Linked DNA regions of Homo sapiens: region 1 is linked to region 2. Evidence: fine-mapped expression QTL. Tissue or cell type: whole blood. Region 2 holds a variant in brackets; the other region holds the start of a gene. All regions are shown on one strand. Distances are between the middles of the regions.

Evidence for each region. PIP is the estimated chance that this variant, and not a neighbour inherited with it, causes the effect.
Region 1: it holds the start of ARSB, and the variant in region 2 is fine-mapped to the expression of ARSB in whole blood (TOPMed, PIP 0.94).

The regions. Positions count from the first base shown.
Region 1 is chr5:78,983,929-78,986,611 of GRCh38, forward strand. ARSB (arylsulfatase B) reads right to left here and starts at 1,382. Exons shown (of 8, transcript NM_000046.5): 1 at 1,009-1,382. The coding sequence starts at 1,320. RefSeq lists a silencer at 705-1,564.
Region 2 is chr5:78,779,870-78,782,547 of GRCh38, forward strand. ARSB (arylsulfatase B) reads right to left here. Exons shown (of 8, transcript NM_000046.5): 7 at 1,983-2,105; 8 at 1-793. The coding sequence ends at 528. Among named protein-coding and RNA genes, the nearest start is that of LHFPL2, 130 kb to the left of the region's middle. The variant G/A (reference allele first, on the strand shown) is at 1,010.

The DNA of each region.
Region 1 (2,683 bases), 200 kb after region 2:
TGTGAAGGCATGCAGGTGGTATCCAACAGTTCCCATTTACTGTATTTAATATGGTCATAATAACTTCAGGGTCTTAGAAATATGACAATCGTATTCAGATTGAGGGGAAAAAAGGCCAATTTCATAAGCCCGGGACGACCAGTGGATGCAGGAAAAGCACAACGGACACTGCCTTGACCACTTTCTAGCTGTGCGATTCTTATGCCAACGAGCCTTTACAGGCTTCCTGCCTCGTCTGTAAAACGGGGTAAAAACAACTACCTCATGCACTGTTTCAATAATTCACTTTAAAAACAACAAAGTGCTATGCAAATGTTCTTGATATTCTTAGCCATCTAACATCTATGCACGCTCTACATTTATATTTCCTTCGTTAACTGTGGAGCCGTTCCTAAAGGGAAGCTTTTAAAGCGATAATGAAGATGCTCAGAAGAGTTCAATACAAGGTTACATGTGAAAGGAATGTCAGCAGCCTAAGAAAAATCAACCTAGCATCAGGTTTCATTCCAGGGGTGTTGAGAACCTGGAAAAAAATAATCTTTGGTGGGACACTCCTAACCTATCACCGCTGGGTTCCCACGGGCCAGGGTCGCACCCACGGCGAGCACCCCTTCATTTTACCTCTCCCCTCGTCTTTGCTCCCAGCCCACGCCCTCCCCAGCCTCCCACCTCAGGACCGCTCCGCCTGCCGGCCGCGGCGCCCAGCACCCGGCATTCCCATAAACCCCTTCGCCCGGAGCTTCAGAAAACGAAAGACAAAGCCACCCGCCCAACCCGGCGGCCGGGGCGCGGGTCCGCGGGGCGCCAGAGCCGGGCATGCGCAGAGGCCGCGGCGGGCTGCCGGCCTGGAAGAGCGAGGTTGGGGCGAGAAGCCGCCGGGACCCATAACTGGGTCGGCGGTCCGAGCCCCGCCTGCCAGCGCCCGCGGCCTCAAGGGCCGGGTAGGAGCGGCAGGGCGCCGGCGAAAGGCGGGGCGGGGGCGGCGCGGGCGGCGGGGGCGCCGCGTACCTGGTAGCGGCCAGTGAGCAGCTGGCTCCGCGACGGCGTGCACAGCGGCTGCGTGTAGTAGTTGTCCAGGAGCACCCCGCCGGCCGCCAGCGCGTCCAGGTGCGGCGTGCGGATGCGGGAGCCGTGGAAGCCGACGTCGTTCCAGCCTAGGTCGTCTGCCAGCAAGAAGACCAGGTGGGGCGGCCGGCTGGCCCCGGCGCCCGAGCCCGGCGGCGCCAACAACAGCAGCAGCAGCAGCGGGAGGACGACGGGGAGGAGCAGCCGCCGAGGTCCGGGGCCTCGGGGCAAGCTCGCCGCGCCGCGCGGACCCATCCTTGTCCGCCCGCGGTCCCAGCGCCTGTGGCGCCACCAGCCCCTTGTACCGCTGATAGAATGAGGAACTGGGCTGCCGGGGCCTGCTCCGCCCCGGCGCGGGACGGCACCCCCAGCGGGCCGTGGGCTTGCGAGGCCGGGCGCTCGGCCCCCGCCGCCTCCGACCCGGGCCCCCGGCTGCTGTGGCGGAGGAGGAGCCAGAGACGAACCCGCGGGCGCCCGCTGCCCGGCTTCTTGGAAACTCAGCTGACGCTTGGAGGGCACCAAGGCCCGTTATCTTCCCCGGCAATTAAATTTGCACTGTGGTTTCCTAAAAAAAAAAGATGTGTTCTTTAATAACGCTTCACAATTTACAAAGCATCTTCACAGCCCGCGTCTCCTGTAAAGCCTGCAACAACTCTGACAGTTAGACATTATAATTAGTGCCAATTTTTCATAAGAAAAAAGCTTATAAATGGTTAAACCTCTGACTCAGATCCTGAACCATGATGTCTAGCTAGCAAGTCATTTCTAGCACAAGAGCCCAGCCTGTGGCAGGTGGGAGGACGGTGAAAAGGCAGAGGTCTAAATAGCCTTTCACATTCATTTATGCGTAGTGTACACCCATGAAGCCGCTTCCTCCCCACTAGCAAACAGGAGGCCAAACACACAGTCTGATTGCACGGTGCCCTTTGGAAGGTGCGGTTACTTTCAAGTTGCCCTGGGAGGATTTGGAGTGTTGCGTGGTCATTGAATAAATAGCTCATTCGCTTGTCCGGATATGACCCCACTCAGAGCTGGCTCCCCCACTAAGCAGTGACACTAAGAAGCACACAGTATCTAGTTAGCCTGAAATATCTGAGTGGAAGGAAAAAATCCTTTAGTCACGTGCTTATTGAATTAGGAAGTTAGCCGTATGACCAGTAGATTCCCGTTGCCATCCAGACTTTCTGTCTACTCTGTCTGGAGATATTATAGTTGTTAACAGGTGTAGGGGAAAATTTTTGCATTGCCTAGAGACCATACCCTTCCAGGTTGAGTCTGATTCCGTGGAAGTTGTTTACAACTTTATAAGTTATAGATAAATAACAATGGAAAATAATTCTTATTTATATATACACAAATGAACTTTATCCAGCGGAGTAGCAATCCTTCCCCTCCACCACTACCAAGGAAAACAGTTTCACCTCCGCTTGCATATTTATTTTAGTATTCCTGATCTGTTCTTTGGATTGTCCTTTGAATTGGTTTTAACACCTTACCAATTTCCTTATTAATGAGTTAAATAAAATCATGTATTCACTTTTATATTTGTATGAGGGTCATGATTTTACCTTTTTTTCCCCAAGAATCCTTTAACACATGAAATGTTTGCCTCTTACAT
Region 2 (2,678 bases):
TGATGAGATAAGTGAGTAAGGGGTGAACCAAGAGGGGTGGTTCACTTGGAGTGCCTGAACATGATCCTTCACCGACAGGGAGAAGCCTTGGCCAACAGAACCATTAATCACTGTCTGCTCCCTTCATTTGCGTAAGAAATGTGATTCACTCCAATAAAACTGGCTATTGGCAGAGGGGAATCGAACGTCTGACTTGTGAGTCTAAAAGAGCCAGCTGTTCCAGCCTCCAGGATTCAGTGAGAACTTCCTATTTCAAGTTAAGTTCCCAGCTGTCCCAAGGCTTAGGAAAGGGGGATAAACCCAGCCACCCCCACCTCTAGACACATGCTCCAGCCAACAGCAGGAGTGTTGCAGATTTTATCAGCTTCTTAAATGCATTAGGGGTTGAAATTAGACACCTCGGTGTGGTTTAAGAGCAAGAGAAGGGCCAAGTGAACCCAGGTTGGGATAACAAATGAGACAAGAGTCGTGAGAAAAGGCCTGAGGTCCAACTTCCAATTGAAAGGTTTTCTAGCCTCCCTGAAATCCTACATCCAAGGGCCCCACACCCCAGTGGCCTTGGGATCACAGCGGGGGTCCTGTGCAGGGAAGTACACGGGGACTGAGTGTTTATGGTAGAACTGTAGGCGGGACAGGAGCTTTGTGACGATGTGAGGATATTCTCTGGACAGGTCATGTCTTTCTTCAGGGTCCCGATCAATATCAAAGAGCCAGAGGGTCTTGGTTGGTGGGTCTGATGAGGGTATCTCAGAAACATTGTATTGAGACGGTGGAGGGAACCAGTAACCACAGCCTAGCAAAGAAAACAAAACAGTTTACTGAGGGAGAAGCACAGAGGCAGGTTCTAATTTCAGGGAAGGAGTCTGAGGCCAAGGCTGCACTGGGTTGTGGGTGTGGAAACATAAAAAGATGCGGCCCTAGATGCTGTCTCTAGATGCTTCTCAGACTTGACTTCTGGTGCTTTAACTAGACATGTCTCACTGCTTCACAAGCAAGGACACCCAGAAAC[G/A]TGTGTGCATGTGTGTATGTCCTTGTCACAAGGACTAGGGCATAGGGGTGCTCCTGGCATTTAGTGGGCATGAGCTAGTGATGCTAAAGTCTTGCAATACATGGGACAATCCCAGTCAAAAAAGACTTGTCATATTGCAAACGCCAAAAATGTTCTCATTGTAAACATTGATTAATTACATCACAGCCTTAACCATCATCCCACATATTTTAAAAGTATTGAAAAGATATCACTCTTAGAGAATATAATCAGAGGAGCAACCTCCTTCCCCAGCTATACCACTGGTTGAGGGTGTAGCTCTCAGAGACTCTCTTTGTTAGCTAAATGTGCTGTGCTTGATAGCCACATATATTTAAAATCCGTATTTTCCATGAAGCATAAGAGTGACATTTCTTCCTTTCACCCCTGCTACAGTTAATTCTCTCTGTCTTTCTCTCTCTCTCTCTTTTTTTTTTTTTTTTTTTTTTTTTGGTTAGGACGAGTAGGTTAAACCATTTCTTCCTATCTCCTCATTCAGCAGCCCCAGAGATATGTTTTGCAAAAGGCATTTGTTACTTCGGTAAGCTTCTCCTTGATGATCCACTGGGAAAGCTTACTTGCACCATGACAATGATGGAAGCTGTGTAATTGGGAACAGGCGGAGTCTTAGAATTGGGAAAAGAAAACCCTGAATAAATAGTTGTCTTTCTAGGACATATATCAGGAGGGATCATGAAAGATTAGAAAGACAAATTAAGATTTCAGGTATCTGAGCAAAGTGAGGTAAGTGGTAGGGCTTAGGGGCCTTGAGGAGGAGCCACAGAGGAAGAGGTGGGAAACGGTTAGAACAAGAGTGATAATGTCCTCTCTTTCCAGAGAAATGGCCGTGGGAATCAAATCCCAGGAGGGCAGATAGACTGGAGATACTGCCCTGAGGACACAGCCCTGCTTTGTCTACCACGGGAAGGGAAGTTTGCTAAGCTAAGGACTCTACCTGGGTAGCCCGTGAGGAGTTTCCAATTTCCATGTCTAATTGCAGCATGGACAGATGTGTTAAAGGCTGAATATTCTGGAAGAGAAGAGTCATCCTTTGCTGGAGCCATGCTGTTCCTGGGACCTGGGAAGAAATAGTTTGAAAGAATTAGATCACTGTTATTGGAACGTGTTGTTATAAATCAGCATTTTATACCCTTGCAGAACAGTAGCTTTTATTCAACACTGGAGTGCAAATGTGTATCTTGCCACAGAAATGAATCTTTTATTAAATCCAAACAGAAAGCTATAGTTACATGAAATGTCAGTCATAAACCACCGCAAATATAAAGGAAATCCCAAAGAGATTACAACACTAATTCATCCTTAAAATCGCTATGTTCTGCCAATGTACAGCTAGCCATATGCAGAACAGTGTTCTGTTACAGCAGAGTGACTTTTTTTTGGTTTTTGTTTTTGGCTGTTAAACATTTAAACACACTTTCTGTGTATACTTATACCTATGTAAATAGTATAAGAAATTATAAAATGTACATTTTCATGCAGTCATTTCAAGCTATGAGAGTTCATGCATGCCATGATAGAGTACAAAGACTTATTTTTTAACAACTCTTAAGGAATCTAAAAGTGAGCAGTGCTCAGTTAACTATTCAGACAGGATAACTATGGGGGTAAGAACAAATTTGGTATACAAATT